Regions from separate parts of the Homo sapiens genome. Here region 2 is linked to region 1. Evidence: fine-mapped expression QTL. Tissue or cell type: whole blood. Region 1 holds a variant in brackets; the other region holds the start of a gene. All regions are shown on one strand. Distances are from middle to middle.

Evidence for each region. PIP is the estimated chance that this variant, and not a neighbour inherited with it, causes the effect.
Region 2: LINC01232 starts here. The variant in region 1 is fine-mapped to the expression of LINC01232 in whole blood (TOPMed, PIP 0.99).

Annotation. Positions count from the first base shown.
Region 1 is chr13:99,538,903-99,549,023 of GRCh38, reverse strand. It overlaps TM9SF2 (transmembrane 9 superfamily member 2), which reads right to left. Exons shown (of 17, transcript NM_004800.3): 7 at 9,467-9,578; 8 at 8,231-8,310; 9 at 7,357-7,465; 10 at 5,029-5,161; 11 at 1,920-2,039. Among named protein-coding and RNA genes, the nearest start is that of LINC01039, 33 kb to the left of the region's middle. RefSeq lists enhancers at 600-649, 2,597-2,746, 5,714-5,773 and a silencer at 6,124-6,193. The variant A/G (reference allele first, on the strand shown) is at 4,572.
Region 2 is chr13:99,494,811-99,504,931 of GRCh38, reverse strand. It overlaps LINC01232 (long intergenic non-protein coding RNA 1232), which reads left to right and starts at 5,626. Exons shown (of 5, transcript NR_110731.1): 1 at 5,626-6,246; 2 at 7,596-7,683; 3 at 8,388-8,557; 4 at 8,715-8,797. It overlaps TM9SF2 (transmembrane 9 superfamily member 2), which reads right to left and starts at 3,460. Exons shown (of 17, transcript NM_004800.3): 1 at 3,155-3,460. The coding sequence starts at 3,325. LINC00449 (long intergenic non-protein coding RNA 449) reads left to right here and starts at 3,869. Exons shown (of 2, transcript NR_133664.1): 1 at 3,869-4,537; 2 at 4,992-5,209. RefSeq lists enhancers at 3,080-3,668, 3,575-3,754, 6,033-6,152, 6,163-6,372, 8,344-8,473 and 1 more.

The sequences.
Region 1 (10,121 bases):
TGATATTCCTTTATTAAATAATCCAAATCTGAGACATACAGGATGGGATTCCCTAGGTAAGTCCTGCTCTAGAGAATCAGAGGCAAGTCATCAAGATCAGTTCTTCTTTTCCCCTCACAACCAAAAGAATCCTTAAATCCTGAGCCAGTATCAATCAATGGGCCTAGGCACAGGAAGGGCACACGGGATTCTCACTTATCTTGCAGTCAGTTTCAGAATTTGTTATAAAACTGGGAACCGTCAAGCCTGATGTGCAACACATTTACACTTCCACAGTAGGCCAACTCTTCCTCTAGCACTGTGGTTTCTAGGAGGAACTGTGGTTCCTAGGAGGTGCGTGTGTCAGATGAGGCAACTAAGAAGAGTAGAAGGGTTATGACCATTTGACAGACCATGTTTGCTAATATATGTTTTACTCTCCTTTGCCCCTCTCCAACTTGCTTTTTTTTCCAGTTTAAAGAATTCAAATACTGAAGTAGCTAGAGTGAAAAATGAAAGTACACGTCTGCTCCCAGTTTAAGTCAGAAATGAAACTGGCTGAGATCTCAGAACAGCTGTGATTTTTAAAAAAGTTTTAACATAGTTGATAGGCAAGTTTAAGTGCCACTTGCCCTAAAAGAAAATAATAAAATTACATATACACATAAGATCATATATATGTATCATGATTTGAACTCACAATGTTTCTGATAAACAGACTGTTATGAAATGATTAATTCTGGGTTTACTATAATTTCAGTCAAAATTCAAGTAATACAGGATCTGCAGCTGGGAGACCTGAAGGATGGGGAGGCATTAGTGAGTGGAGTGCAGATGGGAGCAGGGTGTGGGAAAGCAGGCAGCCTGTCCGAGGAACCGACAGAAAGCCTGTGTGGCTGAAATGGTGAGAAAGGGGGAGTGTGGCATGAAGTAAGGCTGGTGTGGCAGGCAAAGGGCTGACTGTATTTTGTATGCATTAAAATCCGTATGATGGCCCTAATCCTACCTCCTTTAGTAAAGGGGAAGAAAGAACTTGACAAAATTCACAGAAATTAAAACACACTTAAAACACACATACATACAGGGCTTCACATACTCAAGAGAGAACTGTGTCTGACAAGGTCTAAGTTAATCTTTTACTGGGGGCTGAGACTACCCAACCCCACATTAAGGTTGTCCACGTAACTCTACTGTGCTTCACCTCAAAACTTTTTCACATTGCTAGACCGTGGGGAATCACTGTATATCCCAGACGAGACTGTGGCATTCCCGAGGAGGCCAGCTCTGGTCCCTGCTGACCCTGCCAGCTGCTTTCTAAGCCATCCAGTCCCATCTCAGCCTTACTCTGTGGCCGTGAGCCTTTTGTTTCACTGAACTTTATTTTACTTCTAGAATGCAAGAACACAAGAGATTGTGACTAATGATATTACAAAAGTAACTTTCCAGGTCTCCAAAATAATGAGATCTTTGTTTACTTGAAACAGTGTATTTTTATAAATATTAAATTGATACAATGTAAGTATGACTTCTCATATGTAAGAAAAGGTACACCTAGATGTACTAGTTGTTTTAGTGAAAAAAATCAGTGATACTCATTTGTATACTTTTCTCCTTTATTAGTCTATATGTGCTTCTATGAACACAGCAAATCTAAGCTGTTCAGCCCAACCTGTTAGCCAAAGCTTAAAGAAAAAAAGAGGGAGGGGATAGTGGATAAGTGGCACAATTTGCTTGTTTCACTAAACATTTTCGAACAAATAAATTTTGGGATAGTAACTCATGACACAAAAGGAATCACCAAGCAGGCTCCTTTTAACTAAGAACAGACCCCTATGAGGCACACTATTTACAAAGCATCACCATCTGATACCCAGGTCAGATCCACAGCCGCAGCAGAGTCCCTTCCTGATCAGACGCCAGTCACAGTGGCTTTGACTTACACTTATAGAATCTGGCAGCAACATAGCCTGCAGGGGTGCCCAGCAGCACCCACAGGACCACAGCACACGTCATCAGCGCTCCTCGGTTGGCAGGTGACAAAAATCCCAGGCAAGCGAAAACTAAAACACAAATCGTGAAAGGCTGTACATGTTATTACTCTGTTTCCTTTGCTGTGAAATGATAGAGAAACCCTCTCATTTTTCAAACAAGAAAAAAATACAACTTCACGCAAAACCATGTGCTCTCCTACCATGCAGCTCTACACAATCTTAGTAATATTTACTGTACTGCACCAATCTGATCATACATGAGGCAAACTTCACTTTGGAAGTTTCTTCTCAGAGTCCAGAATGAGAGATCACATCCTTCCTGTGATCAGGGGAGGCTGACTGGATGCTCAAGAGTGCATTTGACTCTTCTGAGATTCAAGTACAGCCTTTAAAATTGACATAAGTGAAAATGTTTCCACTACAAAATATTCCCACTGTTCTTTCATTAAAAAATATGGGGGTCCTCTGGGGGTAAAAAAAAAAAAACCCAAAACCTTACAACATTCAAACAGAAGAGACATATATAATCTAATGAAAGAACAAAATGAGGGAGAAAGATTTCATACGGCCATTAGCTTTTCACAAATTACGGAAGGACCTTGTCAGCAATACGGGGAAACCCTGGCCCTACCTTATTCACGTGGTTAGCTTTGTTTGCTCTTCCCTATGTAAGCCTTCCTACTAATGAGAATTAAAATGCTATATTATATTCATAGAAATTCCCAGCTTTAAGCTGGGGCTCAGAAGTTATAAGGTGCTCAGAATCCCAAGGTGAGTAGGATACTGCTGAGAACTGAGTTTCAGGAGGCTCAGCAAGAAAATCCCCATTGTTTCCCCCCCTATTGTTTCCCCTAAAACGTGCATGACCAAGCACGTATGTGAGCAAGCACGCGCACACACCTCTGACAAGCACCAGAGTCATGATGAGCAGGAAACACATCAGGGTAGCTTTAGAAGATGTACAAGATTTCAGCTAAAATGCAACCCCTTTCTCCTCCTCGACCTGAAAAATGGACTGCCCTTCGGCAGAAAGTTCCTATTTGAGGACTTAAGGAAAATTATTCCCATCGTATTCTATCCTAGACTCTCTGAAACTTTCCTTCCTTAAAAGTTCACTTTTCTAGCTGACCGCAATAAAAACCAGAGCATCGCAGAAGACAGCTCCTAATAAGATTTGAAAGCAGGAGTTGGCTGGGTGTGGTAGCTCACGCCTGTAACCCCAGCACTTTGGGAGGCCGAGGCGGGCGGATCACGAGGTTGAGAGATTGAGACCATCCTGGACAACATGGTGAAACCGTGTCTCTACCAAAAATACAAAAATCAGCCAGGCGTGGTGGCAGGCGCCTGTAATCCCAGCTACTCAGGAGGCTGAGGCAGAAGAATCACTTGGACCTAGGAGGTGGAGGTTTCAGTAAGCCAAGATCACGCCACTGAACTCCAGCCTGGTGACAGAGCGAGGCTCCGTCTCAAAAAAAAAAAGAAAGAAAGAAAGCAGAAGTTTATCTTCAAACATTCATTCTGCTCTAAGTCTAGTTTGGCTCTCTGTCACCCAGTGCCTTCACCCTACCACCCTCTGTCCAAACCTTTTTTATGACACCTTTTCCTGACCTATTCTCTTTAGTATGACTTAACTTCTCTTTAGTATGATATAGTTACAAATTCTAGCTCTACCTATCAAAATTGTATCTCCTTAAGTTGTTAGTAGATTAAAAAAAAAAGATATCCTAGTCAGTCTTCAAACTGAACCTGAAGGTGTGAGTTTGGTTCCCAAACTTATTCAGTGCCAGACATTTGAAAATGATACTGCTCTTTGCAAAGCATTTATATAATTAATTTTATCATAAAAATTTGGAACAACTTTACTAACAAAAATAACTGTGGTATTATGTATTTAATATGTAATCAAACATAAAAAATAAATGTTTACTAAAAAATTATTAAAGGTTAGTTTCTGAATTCTCCCAGTATATTCATTTGTTGCTATTTATCAGTAGCAGGCATCAATAAAGTAAAATACATTAAATAAAGGTAAAATTTAGAAAATTCTATTCATAAACCTTTTTTATCTTCCAATTAAGGAAACTGGAAGACAGTGGAATTAACATATACCCAGAGGTAGTTTCAGAACAATCCCTGTGGCTATCAATACCTCTAAGGAACATTTATTTAAAAAAAAAAATTGTCCTAGTTGGCAAAAATTTAAATACAATTTCTGAAGTCGCTGAGGTAGCTCAAAGAAGAGAATCTTTTTATGGAGGAAGGAAGGTCTTTCCTACACACTCGCTTTCCCTAGAGGAGAGAGATCCTGCTTCCCAAATCCTCCCCAGATGAGAAGGATCTACACAGTGCTTCCTGCCCCATCCCTTCTTTTCCCACCCTCCTCCCTCCGTGGAAGCCAAGAATATCCTGGAACCCTAACCAGACTGTGCCTGCCCACGATGCCTGGGTAAAAGAGACCCTAAATGGTCCCAGTTCTGGGCTGTTTAGACTCAGATGCTGATGGTCTTAAGGACCTGTTCATCTCCAGCCCAGTGCCTCCCTGACAAAGGCTTGGTCTAGGAAGAGCTGAAGGGAGAAACCAAGAGTCAGTCTTTGGGTGCA[A/G]CTAAACCTGCCCCAAGTCACTTAGATTTTGAGAACCTAAAGGATGCTCAGAAATAATCTGGCTTACCTACCCACTTAGAAAAACTGTGGTGTTTTTTGTTTTTTTTTTTGAGATGGAGTCTTGCACTGTCACCCAGGCTGGAGTGCAGTGGCGCAATCTCAGTTCACTACAACCTCCGCCTCCCAGGTTCAAGCTACTGCCTCAGCCCCACAAGTAGCTGGGATTACAGGCACCTGCCACCATGCCCAGTTTTTGTATTTTTAGTAGAAAGACGGGGTTTCACTATATTGGCCAGTCTGGTCTCAAACTCCTGACCTTGTCATCCACCCGCCTTGGCCTCCCAAAGTGCTAGGATTACAGGCATGAGCCACCATGCCCGGCCAGAAAAACTGGTTTTTAAGCAATTACTGTATTTAGAAAGTATTTTCTACTTGAAAATTTTCAGTTAACACTTACATAGAGTCACAAAGGTCATAATTAAAATCTGTGTCCCGGATCCTAGAAAGACTGATAGCAGCATCCCTTTTCTTGGAGGACGGAATATATCACCATGAACAAGTTTCCAGCCAAATTCTTCCTGGGCATCTTCCTAAAAGGGGAATGAAATCAGTTCGATTGTCTCATGGTATCAACAAGACAACTATAGACAGTTTGTTCACTGTTGAATATGCTGTTACAGAAAACAGGTTTTTTTTAAACTTAAAAATGTTAGTACCTATTTCAATTTTGAAGAATACAGCTTGACTCATGGAGCTTAATATGGCTTTGCTGAACTGTCTTATATGTCAGTTTCTTAAATTTATGACATTAAGGTCTACAAATATACTTATTGAGAAACTTTACAAAGACAATGTGATTGCTACCTAATTCTACTCTAAGTCAAGCTTTGTGATCTGACTTGATGACGATTTTTAGTCACATTCTATCCTCTTCATCCTACTCTTAATGATCTCCACAATAAGCAAATGGCATTAGCTCTCATATTCTAGCTACTTTGCTAATACAGTAAGCATGGATGTAAACATTCATTGAGCACCAACTATAAGCTCGGCTCTGTTTAAAACACCAGATACCACAGTGAGTGTAACAGAAAAATTCCTACTCTCAGGAGTACATGATCTCATTGGGAAGGCAGACAATAAACAAAATAAGTCAGGAAAGTATACTGTACATTAGATGGTAATAAGCGCTGTACAGAAAAACAGGATGTATGGGTGTGTGCAGGACAGGATGTAACATATGTGATGGCTGGGAGGGGTTCAATGGGAAGATCACATTTTGTAAAGATCGGAGGGAGGTAAGGGAACTAGCCATGTAAATGAGGGGCAGACCTTCTTAGCAGATAAAACAGTGAGCTTCGTGAAGGCTCTGAGGTGGAAACCTATGTCTGCCTGGTCTGAGGAACAGCAAGGTAGCCGGCACAGGTGCAGCAGAGTGCTGAGGTAACGTGGGGCCTTAGAAGCCACTGTAAAGCCTCTGACTCTTGCTCTGACTGAACAGAAGTCCCTGGAGGGCCGTGCTCAAGAGTGAAATGATCTGACTTCTGTTTGAGCAGTTTCACTCTGACTGCTGTGCTAAGAGATGGGAAGTAGGACAGGGTTGTGGAAGCAGAGTCACCACTGGCCTGGTTCCACATGGCAACGCTGTGCAAATTAAGATAAAACTCCATTAACAGCAATTATGTGGAACAGCCAATTATAAACAGAGTATTTTAAAATCATTTTAATATTTAATAAGACATAAAATCAATAAAAATCATAGGAAAGAGACTATAGAGTACAAACGTTAAAAGCTTATGAATATTCATATATATTTTCCCCAATCAGAACAGGTCAGAGAGGTTGGGGGACAGGAGGCTGAAGAAGCTGGGGGAAGAGAATACAATAAAAACCTGAGTTTTTTGCATTCATTCCAAATTACTGTGATTCTTGTGAAAATTCTTTTATTATGCTGCCATGAAATGAAGAGTAGAAAATGTGTAACACTGTGCAACTTAAAAAGTTTGAGACTAAAGAGGCTGGAACATGCAATTATTTTAAATATATCAAAAGGTTGAAATGATACAAATTTGTTAAGATTAATTTTAAAAAATTAACCACACAAATAAAAATTGCTTAGGAGTTATTCCATTCAACTTTGTGGTTTCACAAACAGGTATGTGTCAGGGATGGAGAAACCTTACAGAGTTGTAACTGTGCACCTACACCCCACGCTGCACCAGTCCATTCCCACACAGGAGGCTGTGAACAGGTCAGCTCCCAAGGCTGTGCTGACTCCATTTCTATTTTTTTTTTTTTTTTTTGAGACAGAGTCTTGCTCTGTTGCCAGGCTGGAGTGCAGTGGCACGATCTTGGCTCACTGCAGCCTCCGCCTCCTGGGTTCAAGCAATTCTCCTGCCTCAGCCTCCCGAGGTAGCTGGGGCTACAGGTCCCCACCACCACACCCAGCTAATTTTTGTGTTTTTAGGAGAGATGGGGTTTCACCATGTTGGTCAGGCTGGTCTTGAACTCCTGACCTCAGGTGATCCGCCCACCCCGGCCTCCCAAAGTGCTGGGATTACAGGTGTGAGCCACCGCGCCCAGCCAAGAATATTAATTCTTAAGTATCACTTTCTTATTTGAAAATGTGAATTCAAGATAACTTTTGAGAAGAATTTTTTTGTTTTTGTTTTTGTTTTTTGAAGAATGTTTTAAAAGCAGATTCTAAAGCTATTATTTTACCTTTTTGCAAAATAACAATAAACAGTGTCCTTGGCAGACTAAAGACTAAAATGTTTCCACTTACCGTAGAGTCCATCTGATTATATCTAGCAATATCTTTGTGCAGTGTCCGTAACATAATCATAGCTACCATTCCAGATAAGAAGAGAACAATGACCAGGGAATTCATAATGCTGTAGAAATAAGCACATCATGAGTAATCTGTAGCTTAATCCTAGGAACAGTAAAACTCTTTTAAAAACTGTTTATTGAGTAACATTAAAACAGTCTTGATCAAAATCAAAATGAAAGCTATCTGAAATCCAACAAATTCAATGAACTGTGTTCTTTCATGTTTCCCTCCAGTAGATAAATAACATTATATACTTATCATAATACAGTTTCATAGTCTGTTTAGAACTAGAATTTTTTGGTACATGGTCAATATTATGAAATAACTACTGTGCCCAAATCACTGCCACAACAAAGGACTGGCTTGTGCCCTCAAGAAATTTACTGAAGAACAACTTTACTCAGTAAATTAGTGAGTGTCAAAAAGATCAGACAGCAATAGGAAAAGGAGAGTTATGGCAACATGAACAACTCTAGATAAAAGTTTTGAATCATGTTTGAAGGGGATAATAATAAAGTCATAGCAACAACAGCGGCTTCTGTTTCTGAACACTCTTATGTGCCAGACAATGTCCTCAAATATTCTGTCCCATGATGTCCTTTAATCCTCACAACAATCCCATAAGGTGGGTATTTCTAGATAAAGAAACAGACGCTGAGAAATTAAGGGACCTGCTGTGACTCACAATCAGTGGCTGAAAGCCAGGATTTGAACCCAAGGCCAGACTTTTGAATAAAGTAGAGAGGATTTGAGAGTAAATGAGATGTTCAAAGGGACAGAGGGTAGAAAAGTAGAAAGCAAAAGCAGGCTAACTCTGTACTCTTACCTAAACCACTGAATGTGGGTATGAGGCATAGACTCCAGAATATAGTCCCATCTAGACGCCCATCTGATCTTATCATCTTCCTAGAGGAGATTAAAAAATCTCTTTAAGTAAACATCTGCTGACAGCACATTAAGAACAAAAAAAAATCCCATTCAAAGCTTGTCCTTCCATTGAGTCAACAACTGCAATTTCTAAATTATCTAACTTTGGTTAGTCCTGAGATTTGGAGAGTTTCAGATTTACTAAAGTCTAGGGGAAATCAGAGTAAGATTATGCAACCAAAAAAAAAAAAAAAAAAGAATTCCTAGTAATACCTACTAAAAGTATTGCTTTAAATTATAACTAGATGTTTAGATGTCAACATTTAGACCTATATGTAGGTTTTTTTTTTTTTTTTAAGAAAATAATGGAATGGAATGGAATAATTATTCTTTTCTTTATGCCGGGGGCAGCTAACCAGACCAGTCATTCCAGGCACACTGAGCTCTTAATATCTAGAAATATATACTATTTACTGCACCAGGTTTGCAAAATGAAACATTATACGGGGATATTAAACATCACAACTATATTGGATTGCCAAAAGTTTTAAAAAATAGAGTTGGAACACTGCCTAAGATTCTTGCATTTTAATGATAAACTTGCATTTTAAGAAACTTCGCTAATAAAAATACTCCCTTCAATTTTCTAAGACAATCTCCCAATCGGAAACTCTTCATTTAAAGTTCATAATTAAATCTTGATTTTAAAAATGGTGAAAAAATAAAGGTAGAATACTAAGATTCTCATAACAATGAATTTGCATTTTAAGAAACTTCGTTAATGAAAACACTCCCTTCAATTTTCTAAGACAATCTACCAATTGGAAGCTCTCCATTTAAAGTTCACACTTAAATCCTTTAAAGTACGGTGTTGATTTCCCAAATGGTTTCTGAATATATCTCTGGCATTTCCATCCCGTCCTCTAGGCCTGTTTTCTACTTTTGTCTTATATGTATCTCTTATGCTTAACACTAAATCAGGCTCAAGTCTTCAACTTCCTCTATATTCTCATTTAAACTAAGACTCAGTTACAAGAGTGATTATGTTGCTTGGTACACCGACAAACTATCCTAAAAATCAGCTCATTAATAGCTTCTTTATTTGACAAGCATAATCAGTAACATTTTAATTAGTTTAAGTAGTACAAATTTAAAATCAATTTCAGAGTTATACTAAAGATAACAACAGACTCACCTCGAAGCTAACAGAGTAAGTATAGGCAATTTTTATCTCCCCAGAAGCCTTGTTACTTATGTCCATGGGGGGCCCTGAGCAGTCTGGTTTATCTATATGGGTATGTTTGAAGCTGTGGGAAGAAACATTTTGGCAAGATGCTGATAAAGTACAACTTTTTAAAAATGAGGTAAAGGTTACAGATTTTGTACGTATTTTAAAATGCTGCTGACAAAGGTGAAATTATTCATGTCACACTTAATAGCATAAATATTTACATCATATGTGTACAAAATTATAAACATACTTTTGAAAACACTATACTTGAAGAGCATTTAAATAATCTTTTTTTTTTTCTTTTTTTTTTTTGGGACAGGGTCTTGCTCTCTTACCCAGGCCTGAGTGCGGTGGTGCCATCACAGTTCAATGCAGCCTCAAACTCCTGGGCTCAAGTGATCCTCCCACCTCAGTCTCCCAAGTAGATGGGACTACAGGTGTGTGCCACCACACCCCACGCCCAGCTAATTTTTCATTTTTTGTAGAAACAAGGTCTTGCTATGTTGCCCAGGCTGGTCTTGAACTCCTGGGCTCAAGCAATCCTACTGCCTCAGCCTCTCAAAGTGCTGGGATTACAACATGAGCCACCATGCCTGGCCTTTTTTGTTTTTTGTTTTGT
Region 2 (10,121 bases), 44 kb after region 1:
TAATAGAGAAAAATTGGGCCCAATCTAAAGGCCCTACAAGTAAGAATGGTCAGGCAAACCACAGATTGTACAGGAACAGAATGAAATAGTATCGGCTATAAAAAGCAATAAGAATGTGCACCTCCTCAATATCCAAATGCACGCACATGTAAAATAAGTTAAAAAAAGGAGGCCATGAAAACATACTCACAGTATCTATGAAGGCTAAGAAAATTAATCAGAAGTTACAGCAATATAAATAGAATTTTATATTCACTGGACTCCTGTTTCTCTGCCAGTAAATTCAACATAAGATAATTTTTAAAGAGAGAAAATTACTAAATCCTCAGCATTCTTCTGATTCTCTCTCAATTTACATCCTGAGCTAAATGCATGAGACAAACTTTACAGTACATAAAAACACTCTACTACCTAAATTATATATAAGTTGAAGATATATTTGTTTCATCTCTACACTATCACAACAATGACAAATATTGCACTTTTCCTCTAAGAAATGCAAAATACCTTTCAAGGGGAATATGTCATAATCAAATATGATTATCCCTATTTTACAGATGGAAAAACTGTTGGTAACAGTATCAATGACCTGCCCAATTTCTCCAACTTCAGATTCACTAACTTAACAGCATCTTTTGGAAAAAATTATTTCCATTTCACAACTCTCATTTCTAATTTTTAAAAGAAGTTCCTTCCACTTTTCTGAATAATGTGTACAAGACTGTCCTCCTTAACAAATACGAAATAGATGAGAATAAATTATTAACATCCTGATTGAAGTAATACAAATTTCAACTGTTTACTGTTATTTATAGCATCTTCTTTGAAAGGCAAAGAAAATAAATATTAAAGTGTATTTCAAATTCTCTACACCAGTTAGTCATATCGCAGGAAAAAAGCTGAAAGTACACCCTCCTGCTCTTCTAAGAGTTGTTTCCATTAACCAGATGTGAGTGTAGCTGGCAATAAAGATAAAAATCCAAACATTTCGGAAAAATGATCTGCTCTGCCTGTTTTATCCCTATACCTATGAAAATTAAACATCCAAAATGACTCCCAAGATTAACTAAAAAATAACTAGAATACAACCTAGCCACTTACCAAAGGACCTGTTGAGAAAACAATCATCTAACTGGAAGACCACCTATAAGTTTCACTTATTCATTTTCTAAGTCCATCTCAAATGTCACTTCTTCTTCTTTTTTTTTTTTTTTTTTTTTTTGAGACAAAGTCTCGCTCTGTTGCCCAGGCTGGAGTGCAATGGCGCGATCTCAGCTCACTGCAACCTCCACCTCCAGAGTTCAAGCGATTCTTCCTGCCTCAGCCTCCCGAGTAGCTGGGATTACAGATGCCCGCCACCACGCCCAGCTAATTTTTGTATTTTTAGTAGAGACGCGGTTTCACCATATTGGCCAGGCTGGTCTTAAACTCCTGACTTCAGGTGATCCACCCGCCTCGGCCTCCCAATGTGTTGGGATTACAGGCGTGAGCCACCACACCTGGCCCTGTCACTTCTTCTATAGAGCTTTCCCTAAAGACTCTAGTCCACTGATGTTTCCTCATTTTGTTTTAGCACACTTTGGACATCATCCTGTGTAACAGATCAGATTTCAATAATCTGTTCATAAGCTTATGTCCCTTACTTTGAGGTTCCCAGAGGGCAGGAAATATATTTTTCATCTTTGAGGCACTAGGAATAGAATATACAACTGCTGTTAAAGTAAGACCAAACACTAGGCCTTAAAGGTTGGTTACTAAAATATTTAATGGAAAAACCAGTGTACTTGCAAGTCTAGATCTTCCACTTGGAAGCACAACAACAGTCTTTCAGTCAGAATCCTCAAAAAGGAGTGAAAGCTTCTTGCACTGCAGAGTATGAACTTAAGTACTGAAACACTAACTGCAGACTTGAGTAAACCTTAAATATCCTTAGATATTTTTTCAGATACAAGGTTTTGCACAGATGTATAAACATGTCATTCAAGATAGCTGACAACCTAAAAAGAAACTGCAAAATGTTATGAAAAATTTAAAGCTTATCTAATGCCCTAAAATAACCTCAAAATTCACAGCTATAGTAAAGCTAACTGTAATAAACACCAGCTTAAAAAAATCAAACTTAATAAATAAGCCTATTTATAGATTGTAAACGTTTGTTGAACGATTATTTGAATTGTTGAAATCATTAAAGGTTTCAAAGAGATCCTCATCCCCCAAATGTTAAGTTTTAAATAAACTTAACGAAATAATTGTGTATGTATACTGTAAAGCCCTACACCATATAACCTAAAAGCAGGTTACTTTATTTACGCCTCTTTTACTAGCAATTAAACTGAAAACCTTGAGTGTGAATGTTGTAAGAGATCAAAGTTTTCAAGACTTGCCCTAGGAAAACACCAGTTTCTCCCACCATTTGCCCCTTTTAAGTGTTTAAAACCATCTCAGAGAAAATAGTGAGACCTCGTATCTTTTTTTGTGTATTAAAATCTTTTACACTTAAAACTCAGAAATCAAGTGCCTCAACCATTACAGCAACTCTTTATTAATGCACTTTGTGTGGCTCTGGGTGTTATACTCCACAAATAAGGAACCAACTTCTAATTGTGAAGCGAGATATCAAAGTCCTAGAAAGAACAAGCTCTCCTAACCAACTAGAAGGTTCCAGGAAAATGCAATTAAACAGGAAGCAATGAAGTTAAAAGCTAATGGAAACTGTTAACTAGGCTGAGTGTTGCTCACATGTAGGGAGTCGGTCACCCGCTTCCTCAGCGTACATGTTACAGGGCTGTGAGCGAACACTCACGCGTGGACCTGCATACATCCAACTCCAAAGCTCTGAGGCGTGAAGCCCAACTCCAAGGGCGCTCCACACGGTCCCTGTTCCAGGAAAACTGAATACAGCTGCTCGTGCCACTTGGCCCGCAAGACGGGAGGCGAGTCTGAGGCCCACTGCGTCCTCCAGAAACTACCCTTGCAAGGGCTGTTTCAGAGCCCCCCACCCACAGCCCAGCAGACCCCAAAAGCTTCTGGGGAAACTCAACCCCACCCGCTGCTACGCCCCCTTCCCTCGCTCCCACCCGAGGATCAGCTCCCCCGGATAGGGACGACTTCCCCTTCCAACAGTGCATCAGAGGGCTCGTCAGGCCTCACCCACCTTGCACTCGTCGCTCTTTTTTTCTTCGTCGCAGAAGTTGACGGGCGCCAGGCCGGGCAGGTAGAAAGCGCCGCTCCGGCGCGGGCCAGGAACCGCCCCCAGCAGGAGCAGCGACAGCAGCAACAGCCGCGGCCACCGAGGTGGAGACAACACCGGCAGCCTCGCGCTCATGATAGTTGTTTCGGGGAAAGGGCAATCAAACCTAGGGGGTCAAGAGGGAAGGAGGGGTGGGGAGTCTCGGAGACGACTACAAGGCCGCCAGAGATAAAGGAAGCCGGCCCCCAGAAGGCTAGTTCCGGTTGCGCTAGGAGACACCCCGGGTCCCGCAACAGAAACCGAAGCGGACCGCAACAGAGCATGCGCACCGCCGTCTGCACATGCTCAGTGAGAACGGTCGCAGGCACCAGGAGGAGTTTCCGGGAGGGAGCGGGGGCGAAATCCACTTTCCGGGTTTTCCGCGCGCCAGCTGAGGTGGTTGCTGGGAGAGGTGGTTGCTGGGAGAGCTGTTCCGGCGCTCACGTTCCAATTCCAAATTACAAATTCCGATCTAGAGCTCCCACGCTTGGGGGCTGTGGAGCGCTCGCCAGCCGCTCCCCGTTTGCTGCTGGGTCTTACGAAGTTCTCATATCCATCATACAGTTTCTTTGTCACACTGTCCGCGGCACGCCAGTCCCTATGACAGAAAGCACCTGCGGTCTGTCTGGAGGCGGAGTTGGTGGCGGAGAGAAAAAGTTCTGGAGACACCTGGTTGGGAGCAGGCTAAGGAAACAAATGGGGAGGAATTAGCCACAAATCCTCAAATAGACAGCTACTCAAAGGCATCTTCACGGACAATTTCCAAGCATTGGATGCAGTGGTGCATTCTTGCATTGGGCAGTGATTGTGTGCACACATCTCTTTAAGGGAGAGTGGAAATGGGGTGAGGAGGAAAATGGGAGTAGGATAGAGTGTAGCGTTGACATTTATTTTCTTTAAAGGAAGACCCGAGCATACCTGAGAGCTCAGTGAAGAAAGTAGTTCTGGCGAATCGGATTAATATGGTATGATCAGCCTTTAGCAAGATTCTATCACTTTTCCCACTGATGATGTGAGACGGTGTCCGCGTGTGTAAGTGCACACACGTGTGTGTGTGTGTGTGTTGCATCTTCTGAGTATTTTTCAAGGAGAAGCTTTTTAGTGATCTGAAAAAGTCAATTCAGTTAGCCACTAGAGTTCAATCAAAAACTTCGGAAGAGTGCATCATCTTAAAGTACATAAGAGAGAATCATGACCTCCAGCTCAGAATTCAAGAATAGGCAGGTTTGTGAAATAGTAAGCTCAGAAAGTTGAGGGCCAGTGAACTCCTATTTCAAGTTCTTGCGGGTGTTTGTACTTTTTTCCCAGGTAAGGTTTATAACTTTCATCAGATTTTCAAAGGGACCTAGGACCCTGCAAATTGATCCATATAGTGGGGTAGCCAAGTTAATCAAGAGAACTGGGAAGTAGAAAAGAACGTTCATCTTAAGGTTGTTGTGAAGATTAAATCAAAAATGGAGGGAAAGTGCTGAGCACATAGCTTGGCCCAAGGAATGGCACTTTTTTTTTTTTTTTTGATAACAAAAACTAATCTGGTAGGGCCTGAGCAGAAAATTGTGCCTAGGTGGCTTCCCTTTCATGTCCTCTCCCTCAAATAAATCAACATATTCGCTGAACTTTGGGATAGGGAAAAATTGTAAAATATTCTGTATTTGGAAGTCATGGAGATTTCCAATATAACAAAAGGAAGCAGACGTTTTCTCCAAATATTAAGAGGAGGAAACAAAAATTAACATTTTTGCTCACTATCTTCTTTTCCTAGCACCACTGAAACTTGACCTTCGGCCGGCGCGGTGGCTCACGCCTGTAATCCCAGCACTTTGGGAGGCCGAGATGGGCGGATCACGAGGTCAGAAGATCGAGACCATCCTGGCTAACACGGTGAAACCCCGTCTCTACTAAAAATACAAAAAAATTAGCCGAGCGTGGTGGCGGGCTCCTGTAGTCCCAGCTACTTGGGAGGCTGAGGCAGGAGAATGGCGTGAACCCGGGAGGCGGAGCTTGCGGTAAGCCGAGATCGCGCCACTGCACTCCAGCCTGGGCGACTGAGCACGACTCCGTCTCAAAAAAAAAAAAAAAAAAACAAAAAAAAAACTTGACCTTCATTATATCTCACTGCCCTCATCCCAAACATTTCCTCTCCCAGTTTTCCAGGAAACGGCATCGCTGCCCATCTCTTTTCAGGCCCCAACCCTGGAGAAGAACCTAAATTTCTCATTTCCTCACTACCTACCTCCAGTCCTTCAGCAGGTCCCGTTGGTTGGGCTGCTAAACTATGGGCTAAATCCTTTCAGTACTTTCCATGCCCACAGCTACCACTCTGGTCCAAGCCAAATTCTTAGTTCCCCTGGACTTCTTACTGCAGTAGCCTCTCAGCTTCCACTCTTGGCAAAATCAATTTTATAAAACCTTGAAATCCCTTAATACCACTCGTCTGCTTAAACCTCGGCATCCCACATTTACCACTATCAGGAAGGATCACGTTTGTTTGTTTGCTGTCTCATTCCCCCATTTATATGTGAATTCCACGGGTAAGGGCCTGCTCCTACATCCCACACCTCTACATCCACAGAGCCTAGAGACCGCAGGCGCGGGGAAAGCACTCCACGACCATCACTGGCCAGGCCACAAGAGTGCTGGATCTAAATTTGGAACCGGACTTTCAGAGCTGAAATAAACCTGAGGTTTTCCAGGGGCTTTTAACCTCCTTTTACAGCCAAGGATGCGCCTAAGAAAGGGGAGAGGCTTCCGTGACTTCCTGCAGTAACGCAGCCACTAGAGATTGAGACTACAACGACTTGGGAGTCTAAAAGTCTGCAACCTTTTCCACTCCAGAGCTCAATGTTTCCTCAATCCCCCGGGATCGGCATCAGCAAAAACCCGGAGAAGCGGAGCCTTTCTCAAAGAAAATGACCTCCAGACTCATGCTACCATCTCGACCGGTGCAAGTATCACGCATGCGCAGGGCCGGCCGCCCGGCCGCACCTCGCCAACTCCTACTCGGACACGTCATCTAGGTCGGCCTGGGTCTGGTGGGAGGGGCCGGGGGCGGGGCTCGTACGCGGGGCGAAGTGGTCCCCCTACTTCCGGATCCGGCCTCACCTGGCCAACGCCTCATTCGGGGTTCCTTGGTTACGTGGCTGCGGTGTCTACCCGGTGCTGGGGCGTGGCGGAGAGAGACCGCCCCGCCCTCCACGCAGGCCACAAAATGGAGGCCCTGCCCTGTGGGCTTTTGTGGCCTGGGCGCTGTCGTGCCGAAAGACGAAAGTGACAATTCCAGTTGCAAACTGGAAAGAAATGGAGTTTTTCCTTCATTCTCCCCATGATCGTGACGGTCCTTTTCTCAAAGTACTAATACTTTTAATGGGACTGTAAAACTTGAGGGATATGACTCTCTCCTCTCCTCTGCTTCAGATTGCATTTGCCAACTCTGATTTACCGCCAATACTATGGTGCTGTCATATTCATAGAGACAGAAAGTAGAGCAGTGGTTGTAGAGAGAGTCTGCAGAAGGAGGGATGGGGATTTACTGTTTAATGGCATACGGTTTCAGTATGGGTTGGTGAAAAAGTTGGGATGAATGGTGATGACTGCACAACAATGCAAATATGCTAATGTCACAGAAGTGTACACTTAAAAATGGTTAGACGGTAAGTTTTCTATTATGTATATTTTACCACAATTTTTTTTTAAATGCAACAGAGTCTCGCTGTTGCCTAGGCTGGAGTGCAGTGGCAGGATCTCAGCTCACTGCAACCTCCGCCTTCCAGGTTCAAGCGATTCTTGTGCCTCAGCCTCCCAAGTAACTGGGATTACAGGTGCCAGCCACCACGCCCAGCTAATTTTTGTATGTTTAGTAGAGATGGGGTTTCACCATGTTGGCCAGGCTAGGCTGTTCTCGAACTCCTGAACTCAGGTGATCCGCCTGCCTTGGTCTCCCCCAGTGCCGAGATTACACGCGTGAGCCACCACGCCGGGCCCCACAGTTTTTTGTTTTTGTCTTTTAAATTTTTTTTAACAGCATTTGTGTCTTTTTTTCTTTTTCTTTTGTTTTTGAAACAGAATCTCACTCTGTCACCAAGCTGGAGTGCAGTGGCGCCATCTTGGCTCACTGCAACCTCTGACTCCCTGGTTCAAGCAATTCTCCTGCCTCAGCCTCTCCAGTAGCTGGGGTTACAGGCACGCACCACCCCGCCCAGCTAATTTTTGTATTTTTAGTAGAGATGGGGTTTCACCATATTGGCCAGGGTGGTCTCCATCTCCTGACCCCGTGATCCACCTTGCCTTCCCAAAGTGCTGGGATTACAGGTGTGAGCCACTGCACCCAACCTAAATGGCATTTGTTTCTTCCACTCCTCTCTGCCAGAATAATTTGGACAGCCTTTTCTGAGTTTCCCATGACGACTTCTGTATAAGATTGTCGGATATAGCAAATAAAAGTACAGTATACCCAGGTAAATTTTAATTTCAGATGATCAATGAATAATTTTTTAGTATAAGTACATTCCAACTATTACATGGGACATAAGGGTATTTTATCTGATCACCCTACTTTTGTGTCAAGTTAAAATTATTAGCAAAAGTGCTTCCGTTTTTAGGAAGTGCACACTGTACTCTAGTAGTTAGGCAGGAGAACAGGGTCTGCGAGCAGGGAACCTAAGGCCGTTTCACACTGACTTCCTAGAGCCATTTGGAAAGGAAAACCCTAACTTTCCACTCCTAAGTAACAAAAGGCCCAGAGGCCACTCCCTTTGCAAACCCCCACCTTTTCTGTGCCGCAGCTGGAAAATTGAAAGTGCCTCTGATTGGTTGCTTTCTGCAACTAATCAGATGTTTGCATAGAGTGTAACTTTGTAACTTCACTTCAGCCTCTGATTGGTTGCTGTCCCCAACCAATCAGACTGATTGTGGGCCAAGGCTTCGTTTGAATAGAAGTGCAACTTTGTAACTTCACTTTAGCCTCTGATTGCAGGCCACCACTTCATTTACATGGGGTGAGCACCAAGTAAGTGGCCAATGGGAAACATCTAGAGGGTATTTGGACCCGAGAAGATTCTGTATCTGGGGCCCTTGAGCTGCTGCTCAGCCTGCTCCCACACTGTGAAGTGTACTTTCACTTTCAATAAATCTCTGCTTTCCTTGCTTCATTCTTTCCTAGCTTTACTGTGCGTTTTGTCCAATTATTTGTTCAAAACGCCAAGAACCTGGACAACTTGCTGTCCGCAACCAATCAGACTGATTGTGGGCTGAATCTTCATTTGCATGGAAGTGCAACTTTGTAACTTCACTTTAGCCTCTGATTGCGGGCCACCACTTCATTTACATGAGGCAAACACCAAGTAGGTGGCCAATGGGAAACCTCTAGAGGGTATTTGGACCTGAGAAGATTCTGTATCCGGGGTTCTTGAGCTACTGCTTGGGCTCACTCCCACACTGTGAAGTGTACTTTCACTTTCAATAAATCTCTGCTTTCCTTGCTTTGCAGTGCGTTTTGTTCAATTCTTTGTTCAAAACCCCAAGAATCTGGACAACTTGCACTCAAGACCCTCTACGGGTTTGGCGAGCCAGGTAGGAGGAAGCCCAAAGTATGGGATTTATTTTTCTCCTTTCTTCTTTTCCTCTCTGCTACATACAGGGGAATCTTTCTCTCTTTCTTTTCCTTTCCAACTCGGGACTCTTGGTGAACAGTGCCTAAGCATAGTGACAACTGCAAGTTTCTGGCCAGAGCCTCTCTCTGGTGAAACTGAAAGGCTTCCATGTGGAAGCGTCTGAGTAACACCACTGGGTTTGGGTGAGGGACCTGAGTCCTTTTCCTTGTTTTTGTTTTTCTGAGTCCTATTCCTTTTTTCCTTTTTCTGAGTTATTTCCCTTTTTTTCTTTTCCAGTCTTTCAGTGGCTGTTTTCTAGTAGCTCCTTGGCAATTGAGGGGAACTGGCTGGGACCACTCTCCAGTGCTGTCTGAAGGCCAAGGAGTGAACAGGGATGGCTGCCCTGCCTTGAAGAGGGAAGGACTCTTTTCTATCCTTTCCAGCTATAGTCCCTGATCCCTACATGTGATGCGGTTGGCAGCGGAAGCTCATCCTGGGCGAACTCACACACTTTTCAGGAGACTTAAACCTTTTCTTATGCTAAGTTCTTCCCTTCCCCTACTCATCTGGCTAAAGGACAGACTATGCAAAAAAGGTTATACAAGTCAGAGGGTCTGAGCATGTCGGAGGTGGTCTGTGTGGGGCATGGGGTGGGGGGAAAATTCATGAAAGGCAATTTATTGCCTAAATTTAAAGGGTTAAAGGGTTGCTTTAAGTGGGATAGAAAAACCTTAAGGAAAGTTCATAGTAGGTCCTCAGTGGTGGAGTGTTGTGGGAAGTCAGGGACCCTGAATGAAGGGACTGGCTGAAGCCATGGCAGAAGAACATAAACTGTGAAGATTTCATGGACATTTATTAGTTCCCCAAATTAACACTTTTATAATTTCTTACGCCTGTCTTTACTGCAATCTCTGAACATAAATTGTGAAGATTTTATGGACATTTATCACTTCCCCAATCAATACTCTTGTGATTTCCTATGCCTGTCTTTACTTTAATCTCTTAATCCCGTCATCTTCGTAAGCTGAGGAGGATGTAAGTCGCCTCAGGACCCTGTGATGATTGTGTTAACTGCACAAATTGTTTGTAGAGCATGTGTGTTTGAACAGTATCAAATCTGGGCACCTTAAGAACAGGATAACAGCAACGTTCAAGGAACAAGGGAGATAATCTTAACGTCTGGCTGCCTATGGGCCGGGCAGAACAGAGCCATATTTCTCTTCTTTCTAAAGCAAATAGGAGAAATATCGCTGAATTCTTTTTCTCAGCAAGGAACAGCCCTGAGACAGAGAATGTGTGCCTAG